2 separate regions of the Homo sapiens genome follow, and region 1 is linked to region 2. A link means that fine-mapping ties the variant in region 2 to the expression of a gene that starts in the linked region. Tissue or cell type: NK cells. Region 2 holds a variant in brackets; the other region holds the start of a gene. All regions are shown on one strand. Distances are from middle to middle.

Region 1 (5,129 bases), 770 kb before region 2:
GAAGATGAAAATTAAGTGCCATATTTGTTTGAGTCACGTGACGCCACCTCTCCGGGAGTAGGGAAAGCTAGAAAGCTCGGAAAGAGGAAATCAGCTACCTGGCTGCGGACCATCTCCCTCAATTGTGACAGCTCCGGCGCTCAATACTTTCAGTTCTGCATTCGGCCGAGCAGGTGGCAGGAAGAACTGTGACCCTGGATTTTTTTTTTTCTTCCACTCTCTTATCTCCTTAACATGTGAAGTCAACATTTATTGAACGCCAACCAGTGATGGTGTTTTGCCAGGCGCGGGGGATACCCGGAGCTAGGAGAACTGGGTTCTCCTCCATTATTATTCTATCTACTGGGCTCTTTTGTTCCGGAACTCTGCGGTCTGAATTTCCATATTCTTCTGCTTCACTCCATTCATTTATTTGCACATTTACCCTACAACTGTTAATTGAACGGTGTGCTAGGCTTTATTTTATTTTTTTAGAGACAGAGTCTCTCTGTCGCTGGAGTGCGGTGGTGTGATCTCGGCTCATGGCAGCCTCGAACTTCCTGGATCAAGTAATCCTTAAGCCTCAGCCTTCCTGTAGTAGCTGGGACTAGAGGCGCGCGCCACTACACCGGGCTTAGGCCCTATTCTCTAAGTTGAGTAAATGGAGGTCCTTCTTCTCAAGGGAGATGCAGGCCAAAAATTAGGAGACGGTGGGCTAAATTATAAGACAGAAGTATGCATAAGAGATCAGAGAGCAAAGAATGAGCAAAGGCTTTTTCGCAAACACAATAATCTGAAACCAAGTCTTTTGTTTTGAGACAGAGTCTCGCTCTGTCTCCCAGGCTGGAGTGCAATGGCGCGATCTCGGCTCGCTGCAACCTCCGTCTCCCGGGTTTAAGCGATTCTCCTGCCTCAGCCTCACTGTGTAGCTGGGATAAGCGATTCTTCTGCCTCAGCCTCACTGAGTAGCTGGGATTTACAGGCGCGCGCCACCACACCCGGCTAATTTTTGTATTTTTAATAGAGACAGGGGTTCACCATGTTGGCCAGGCTGGTCTCGAACTCCTGACCTCAGGCAATCCGCCCACCTCGGCCTCCCAAAGTTCTGGGATTACGGGCGTGAGCCACCGTTCCCAGCCTGAAACCAACTCTTGAAGTAACGGCTTACTAGGTTTGCTCACCACAGCTGCCTTACACCAAGCCTTTTGTTTGGTTTCCCTGGTGTGCTTTAATCACAGACTCTCAGCTTTCCTCACTATGTGTGTTTCAGGTTTAGTAATTTCATTCAGCATTTCCCAAACTATTTAATCACCAAAGGGTGGTGAAAAGAGCAAGTTAAAACAAACAAAACGTTTTCTTCCAAAAACTCTTCTGTGATTGGTGGATTGTCCTCGATTCCTGAGAAAAGTAACATGGCTTTCTGGCCCATTAAGGTTTTTTTTTTTTTTGAGGCAATGTCTGGCTCCTCTCACCTCAGCCTCCCAAGTAGCTGGGATCACAGGTGCCTGCCACCATGTCTGGCTAATTTTTGTATGTTTAGTAGAGGCGGGGTTTCGCCATGTTGGCCAGGCTGGTTTCGAAATCCTGAGCTCAAGTGATCTGCCTGCCTCAGCATTCCGAAGTGAAACCGCCTTTGCAAAATTATAACTGAGGAAATTATGACAGTGAAAGAAATCAGACCTAACCGACTCTATCTTGCTTCTAACCGTTAAGCTGTCCTTGTTCATTCCTGGGCGTAGGCTGAACTAACTTTGGGGAGGAATTCAGTTCATGGTTTGACTCTGAAACAAAATTGATAACAGCCCTTTCCGAAAAGACCCACTTCTTGCCTGGGGACCAGTCTGCCTTTGCAGGACTAACAAATTAGCTACAAGTTTAGAAATTACAGTTTAGAGGTCATGCAGCCTCTGGCTCCAAGAGTCTGAACCTCCCCAAATTGCTCCCGGGGGTGACATCACTATTGCAAGCCCTAAGATCAGTGCTTGAGATATTTTGTAGACCCTGCACTCCATGGATCAGCTGACACCACTCAGACCAGTAATTTGGCGCAACCAGTTTTGCCATCACACCCAGGAACAGAAGACATTAAGAAAACCTCACTTCGACCCCTTATGATTCCATCTCCAACCTGACCAATCAGCACTCCCCACTTCCTAAGCCCCTACCAGCCAAATTATTGGTAAAAACTCCGATCCGCAAATGCTCGGGACAACTGATTTAAGTAACAATAAAACTTCAGTCTTCCGCACAGCTGGCTCTGCGTGAATTACTCTTTCTGCATTGCAATTCCCCTGTCCTGATAAATCGGTTCTGTCTAGGCAGCTGGTAAGGTGAACCCATCGGGCAGTTTCAAAAGTGCTGGGATTACAGGCATGAGCCACCGCGCCCAGCCTATTTTTTGTATTTTTTTGTAGAGGCGGAGGGGTGGGGGAGGGTGTCTCACTATGTTGCCAAGGCTAGTCTCGAACTCCCAGGCTCAAGTGATCCTCCCGCCTCGGTCTCCCAAAGTGCTGAAATTACGGGCGTGAGCCACTGCGTCTGGCCCCTTTAAGCCATTGTGAAAAGTGATGATACACGAAAAAAAAGATTTCCAGGGCCGAGAGCGGTGGATCACGCCTGTAATCCCAGCGCTTTGGGAGGCCGAAGCGGGCGGATCACGAGGTCAGGAAATCGAGACCATCCTGGCTAACACGGTGAAACCCCGTCTCTACTAAAAATACAAAAAAATTAGCCGGGCGTGGTGGTGGGAGCCTGTAGTCCCAGCTACTAGGGAGGTTGAGGCAGGAGAATGGCGTGAACCCAGGAGGCGGAGCTTGCAGTGAGCCGAGATCGCGCCACTGCACTCCAGCCTGGGCGACAGAGCGAGACCCCGTCTCAAAAAAAAAAAAAAAGAAAGAAAAAAGAAAAATTTCCAAACAGGGTGTTCCCTTGTTTCACATTCTCTTTGGTGATGGTCCTGCAACAGATTTTGATAATCACTATATTGAGAAACTGCTTCAGATTCGATCTGTTAGGCTGATCATAGTATTAACTACAATTCCCAGCAAGCCGCGGAGCCAACCTGGGCCTCTGCCGGCCTCTGATTGGATACAGTAGCCAGAATGACGACTCAATCAGTGCTTCGGTTGTTGCTTTGCGGCGTTTTCCGCGGGGAAACTGTGTAAAGGGTGGGGAAACTTGAAAGTTGGATGCTGCAGACCCGGTACTGGAAAGTTTCATGTGGGGTGCCGTTGTGGGGAAGTGGGGTTCGCTCATTATTTCCTGCTCCTTCCCTAGGCTCGTGGGTTTCGATATTGGGGGAGCGGAGATTTTCTCTTGGGTGCTGGTCACGCCCCCTTAAGACTCGGGATCGTCACTAAGAACCCCGCTGTGAATTGGGGGAGCTTCGGGCCTTCTTTTGGTGGGGAATGCTTGGAAGCTGCTCATTGTTGGAAAAAGCTCTTTTTAGGGGATTCTGGGTGATGTTTCCGCCTGTTGCTGCCCATCTTCCTCCCCAGCCCCTTCCCGCTTCGGGCAGCCTGTCATTAGGGGAAGTTGAGGGACTCTCCCACTTCAGGTGGTGTTGGAGAGCGTGGAATCTGGAGTCCGGTCCCTGGATTCGAATGCGAGCTTCACACCAATTGTCAGCTGTTTAACTTTGCCCAAGTTTCTCAACTAGTTACCTCAGTATCCTTATCTGTAAAGTGAGGTAAAATATCCGAAGCCTTTGGAACAGTGTGGCACGTAATAAGGGCTCAATAAATATTAGCTAATATTGTTCCTAAACAGTTGTTGAACATCTAACATGAAGAATTTTCTTTTCTTGGTGGTAAGGAGGACAGGGTTCATTCTCCAGGGTTGACCGTCTCCCCTCATGTGCAATACACATACGTGCTTTCGCGCACACATACACCGCAGGAATTTACGTGCTCCGGTGGGGGCAAACAAACTTGCAAGCCATAATAGTATTTTGATAAGATTATCGAATAGATATGTGCGAAGTTGATGAGAACATTGGAGAGGAAAAGACTTGACTCTGGGGAAGGTTTTGTGGAGGGAAGTCAGGGAGACAGGATGCGTGACCTACCAATACACATACCATGTGGCTGGAGGGCAGATCATGTGAGAGTCATTAAATGATGATTGCTGACCTTAAGTACTATGTGCCACGCACTCCCCGAGTCCTTTAACCTCCACTACAGTCATATGAAGTAGTAAATTCATATGACTGTAAAACAAGGGTTTTAAGGAAATTAAGACACTGAGAGGTGAAGTAACTGCCAGGAAGGATAGGAACTGAACGTTGCAATGTGATGTATGAGTGAGAAGGAAGTGAGGGACCAATTTTTGATGTTTTTCTCTGCGACCCTAAGAAGTTTGGAATTTATCCTGTGGTCTACCAGTCCCATGGGAAGTGTTAAAGGATAATCGTGACTTTTTAGGAAGCTACTCAAGGCAGGATTGTGACACTGATCTGACTTTTGCAGGCGAATTTGGGGCTTCTTCCTGTCTGCTTCCATAGCACTTTTAAATAGCAATTGTAATGCTTACTGCATGGCTGTAGTTATTTGTGTGTACCTCTCTTTTCATCTCAACTATGAGTATTCAAAGGGGAGGGAATATGCTTAAATGATTCTTGTACCCCAGACCTCAGCAGGGTGTGTATTTAAATGCCTGTGGAAGGAGTAAATTAAGGAACAAATGAATGGAGTGGCCAGAAACAATATGCAATAGTCCAGGCAAGTGATGGGAGTGGCCCTATTAAGGCAGAAATGGCAGAATTGGTTGTTGTTAAAGTCCTTGTAGTTTAGAATTTATAGTTTTTTGTTTGTTTGTTTTTTGTTTTTGATAGGGTCTCAGTCTGTTCCCCAGGCTAGAGTGCAGTGGCATGACCACAGCTCACTGCAGGCTCGACCTCCTGGGCTCAGGTGATCCTCTCATCTCAGCCTCCTGGGTAGCTAGGACTACTACAGGTGTGCGGCACAATGCCCAGCTAATTTTTGTATTTTTTTGTGGAGACAGGTTCTCTCTATGTTGCCCAGGCTGGTCTCAAACTCCTGGGCTCAAGCAATTTGCCTGCCTTAGCCTCCCAAAGTGCTGGGATTGTAGGCGTGAGCTACCTTGTGTGGCCTATGGTTCTTTTCTTTCTCCTTCTTTTTTTTTTTAAATTG
Region 2 (5,205 bases):
TGGGCCTCTGCACCTTTCCAGAGCCAGGCCCCCTGTGTGTGTGTGGCCGGTGGCGTGGGGGAGTTGCTTCTTTTCATTTTTGTGAGTGAAAATGAAAGGGTTCCCCACAACCAGCTGCAACAAGGATCTCTCACCCTGTTGCTAAGGAGTGGTGGGGTCCTGCTACCATGTGGTGCTCTGGCAGGCCTGGGGAGATCTTTAGGGATCTGGAGCAGCCACTGGATGTGCAGTCCTGAGCCCCTGGGATGTGGAAGTGATTGGCCGGCCACCTGGATGGGCCTCACAGTCCTACTGTCACTCCTCTTCTCTCCTTTCACTTCTGGATCCTGCTAGAGAAATGGAGCCCGGGGAAACTGTCTCACCACCTAGGACTGTGTGGAGCTGGGCACACACTCAGGAGGCAGGTGACTTCCAGGTAGTCAAAGAGAAGCTCACACTCCCTGTCCTCTGATAGTCCTACTCCCTGAAGGATCTGGTCAAGCCATTCCTTCCAGATGGCCGTGATACTGTGTCCCCTCAGTATTAGGAGGGGGGGAATTGATGCTTTCCATGAATGAAAGCTCCTAAACCCCCTCCCCCGCAGCTAGGGCTGATGGGGAATGGCTAAACCCCAGATGTCTTCATTGCACCATAAATGTGAGCAGGGAGGTACAAAGGGGTAGGCAATGATGTGTGTGTGTGTGTGTGTGTGTGTGTGTGTGTATGTGTGTGTATCAAAGAGAGGAGTCTGTCACAGGAAAAATACTGAGTGGCCCCAAATGTTGTAAGCGTATGCACCCCAGTTTTACAATAATAACAATCATAATACTAATAATTTTGCTATCATTTGTTGAGATCTTTTTCTGGGCCAGGTACGGTACTTTGCACATATTATCTCATAATTCTCAAAATCTCTGTGAGGTACAAGTATCACTATGCAACTTTTCAAATGAGAAAGCGAGCATGGAAAAAAAGTTGGTTCAATTGCCAAAGATCATAGATCTGAGAAGTGGCAGGGCCAGGATTAGAATGCTAGAGCTCAAAGTTCTTCTGCCACGTATCATAGAAGCGACCACTACATCGATAATGGTAACTGCCAACCCTCACTGTTCACTGGCCACATGCCAGACACATAGATTCACTTAATTCATTCTTACAAAACTCTGGATGTATTCTTATTGCCTCATTGTATAGATGAGGAAACTGAGGCACAGAGCATTTTGGCATTGATTCCCTTCGGCAAATGTGATTTGAACAGCTCCTATGTGTGTGCAGGGCACCGTGCTCTTGGCTCTGCGTGGGATATGGGACTGAGTGATACGTCATTCTTATGGTCTGAGATCAGGAAGGTCCATGGCCATGGCCATCAGAATGGGCTCAGGGTGGGATTCCAGAACTTGAAATGAGGGACCTTGCATCCTAGGGTATGCTAGAAAGTGGAACATACCAGGTCTCTAGAGAAGGAACCTAGGCACAGAAGCAAGACAGAGTCCTGTTGTCAGACTGAGGCACCAGGTCAGAACTGGGCCAGCAGCAAGGGCTGGCGGAACTGGAACTGATTTATTCCCGCCTGCAGCATGGCCTCGAGGGCAGGGCTCCAGAGCTAGGCTGCTAAGTTCAGATCTTCCATTCTTTAGCTGTGAGACCGTGGGCAAGTTAATGAACCTCTCTGGGTTTCAGTAGCCTCGTCTAGAAAACAGGAATCATAACTGCCCACCTCATGGAATTGTTCTAAGGACTAAATGAGTTAATATGTGAGAGGCTCTTGGAACAGGGCCAGGCCCATGATGGGCTCTCTGGTGGGCTCTCAAGCTCTCGCCAGCCGATGATCATTGGGCCCTTTGATGCTGAGTGGGCAGAAGCTGCAGGTAGGGGACAAGTTGTCCCAGTGGCAAACAGAAGAAAATTGTAGTAGGAACTGATTAGGGCCTGTCTCTGTAGGTGGTTTGATGGGGAGGGAGAGATGAAATCCAATGGGACAAGAGGGAATTCACATCATTAGTATAAAAGGTTGGCAAATGGGCATGGGACCCTTCCTTCTTAGTCTCCAGAGGCCAAGATGCAGGTGCCTGGCACCTGGGCTGGCTGAAAGTGGGGAATGTATCAGGGCTGGCATTTATAGTGATGCCACTATTGTCTAATTATGGGCACAAAGAGAGGCTCCCACTGTCTGTGCAGCCCCTCAAATCACCCAGGGAAGAAATATTGGTCTATTCCCAGCATTCCCTCTGTCAACTCCCCAACCTCAGTCTCTGGCTTGGAAGAAAGACGGCTGGGAAGGGGGATGGAAGGCAGCCATGCTCTGTTGCAGTAAATCTTTCCTAGAAGAGGAGACAGCTGAGCTCATCAGCCAGTGTCGGATCAGCTCAGAAAGAATCCTTTCCAACTCCCAGAAGACCCCTCAGCGGCTTGGGAAAGGAATGGCTCACTGGGGCACTTTGTTTGTGTATGTGGGCCTGTCAGGCTGGGCAGGGGTGTCTGATGACACATTAGGACAGCTGAAAAGAGAGGTGGGACAAAAATGTTTGCCCAAGGGCAGTCTTGTGATTCCCCCACCCCCCGTGCTCCCCACCCCCACACGCCTTTGAGAGCTTGTTCCAGGACTTTTCATATGCATTTGAGACCACAATTTCCTCTCCCAGAAACCCCATTAAGCTATGAGTGAGTGAGGCGGTGGGGGAGAGAGAGAGGAAAAGGAAAAGAGAGACAGAGCAAGAGAGAGAGTTTGTGTGTGCACACACGAATACTTCTTCCCCACCCGCATTCTTTTGCACATGTCTACCGTTATGTACATTCCTATGCCATACCCCTTGAACTCTCCATCAGGTCTTCCTCAACCATCCTCTTCAGGAAGCCTCAGGGCCTCAGAGAAAGGCAAAAGGGCCTAGACTTTGACTTCCTTTTTTTTCTCTCTCTCTTAGAGACAACATTTTGCTCTGTCACCCAAGCTGAACTGAACTGGGCTCCAGAAATCCTCC[C/G]ACCTCAGCCTCCTGAGCAGCTAGGACTACAGATGTGCCACCATACCCAGCTAATTTTTTAATTTTTTGTAGAGGTGGGGTCTCATTATGTTGCCCAAGCTGATCTCAAACTCCTGGCTTCAAGAGATCCACCCACCTCAGCCTCCCAAAGCGCTAGGATTACAAGTATGAGACTTTGCCATTCCAATGAGAATTTTGTCCTTAGCAATCTCATCCAATGGCCACTGGAGATGTGTGTAGGGCCACAAGAATGAGAAAGGGGGCAATGGAGTGACAGGTGACCTGCTCAGGTGCCCCTCCCCAGACCAAATGTCCCAGGCACACAGCCCATGCCCTCCACCATGGAGTACATTTTCTCCCTGGCTTGCTGCTGAGCTAAAGGACCAGGGACGTGGAAACAGGAGGTGAACTAAGGCACCCCGCCACCCACTGTGGCAGCTTGAATTTCTTGAGGCTGAGACAAACTAGGATCCAGTAGCCTAGATTTTGCCCCAGTTTCTCCACTGAGTATTTACTCAGTGCTCCTGAGCCGATGCCTTCCCCTCTGCCTAGATGAACCACAGCATTTTGGTAAATGCCTCAGCATGTTAGGAGCGCTGGAACGTTTATTCTCTTCCCTCCCAATTATCCACTCTAATGGAGCAGAACACTTACATGGAAAATCCTAAACATGGAAGATGATTTAAAAATGATTCACCCTGGAATACATGCTTCCAGTTGCTTCTACAGGTTTACCTTGCTAAAGGCATTTCGCTTCCTTTGCTGTTACAATAAGCTTGCCTGCCTTGAAGAAAAGAAGACCAGGGCCAAAGGGAAATCAGTCAAGGGAGCCTGTTTTGTCTGAAATAATGCATCCATGAACAAATGAATTGAGTATAACTGTCTTTTTACATCAGTGTTTCTGTGGAATTAAGAGAACATCCAAGGCCACTCCTAGCTTGAGTAGATTAAATTTGTCCTTGTGTTTGGAGCAAGGGTTGTGAAGTCTGTCTGGCCCATCAAATGACCAATGGCTTTTAAGGAAGGACTAAGTGACTTATGACCAGAACAAGGGAGCAGCCTGAGTCAGTCTCCCCAATGTCTACATTGTGTTATTTATACTAGCAAAAAAATAGACACAACTAAATGTTCGACCATATGGTATTGGTTAAATTAACATCTATACGATGGAATACTAGATGGTCATTAAAATTATGTGTCAGAAGAAGGCTTAATCTCATGGGAAAGTGTTCACACCATATTATTAAAGAGAAAAAACAGATTATAAAGCAATATGCATACAATGTAGTAGTTCTGTAAGAAAAAAGTATTATGTGCATTTTAACTGGAAAAATATGTATAAAAATGTTAACAGTGCAATCTCTGGGCAATAAGATTATACTTGACTTTTATTTCTTTTTTGGAATTGTCTTTTTTTTTTTTTTTTCAAGTTTCCTCCCATTAACATGCATGTTCCCAAAATCAGGGGAAAAATACATTAAGAAAAAAAGATTATCTGAGAGACCAGCAGATGTGTTTCCTGTTTCTTATCCCATGTCTATTCTCCATTTTATATTGGAGATTCAAATTCTTCAGCCCTTTCCACAACAGACACTTCTGGGGCAAGAGGCACAGAATATCTGATATCCTAAACAACACCACCAGGGTGAATTTCTCACTGACAGTAACAGCTTTGGAAAGGTTTTGTTTCTACCTGGCGCTGGGAATTAATCGTACCCAAACTTTTTTTTTTCTAATCAGTAATGAGCATCTCCAAGGGGGTCCTAGAAGGGTTCCAGGGGTTCATGGAGGACAATTATAAACCTTGACAGCTGCTCGGTGGGTTTTCAACCATGGGGGTGATTCATCCCTTCTCGTAAGCCTTTTCATAGCACCCTACGCTCAGAGTTTTGAAAATGTGACAAAAAAGAAAGGGGCTGGGGAGAACAATGGCCCTTCTCCTTTTATGGAAGGATGATGAAGGGAATTGGGAAGAGCAAAACTAAGGGACTAAGACAATTCAGCTTTTTTTTGTCTGGCTCATAGGACCGTGTTCCCCATAGAGTAATGCCCAATGAGTGGACGAAGGGAGTAATAAATGAGTTCATAGAAGGAAACAGCTGGGCTGCTGTAAAAGCTCCTGCAAAACAGATAGGCCTGGCACACGCCATTTCTGTCACAGGTTTTAAAGAACCTATCTAGCTTTCAGCTACTCCTCATCACCATCTCCTACAGAAGCAGAGTCAAGATCATGTCTCTTCCCATCGTA

Alleles and levels. Alleles are on the strand shown, and positions count from the first base shown. SD is a standard deviation of normalised expression in the study named.
For the expression in NK cells of the gene that starts at base 3,107 in region 1, G is the high allele of the variant in region 2 and C is the other (large effect, 0.87 SD a copy in Gilchrist 2021).

The links. PIP is the estimated chance that this variant, and not a neighbour inherited with it, causes the effect.
Region 1: RAD51B starts here. The variant in region 2 is fine-mapped to the expression of RAD51B in NK cells (Gilchrist 2021, PIP 0.95). The same link has a PIP of 0.9 or more in sun-exposed skin.

The regions. Positions count from the first base shown.
Region 1 is chr14:67,816,673-67,821,801 of GRCh38, forward strand. RAD51B (RAD51 paralog B) reads left to right here and starts at 3,107. Exons shown (of 11, transcript NM_133510.4): 1 at 3,107-3,181. RefSeq lists enhancers at 130-299, 350-449, 2,940-3,234, 3,494-4,255.
Region 2 is chr14:68,591,585-68,596,789 of GRCh38, forward strand. It overlaps a transcript of RAD51B not described here. Among named protein-coding and RNA genes, the nearest start is that of RAD51B-AS1, 91 kb to the right of the region's middle. The variant C/G (reference allele first, on the strand shown) is at 2,958.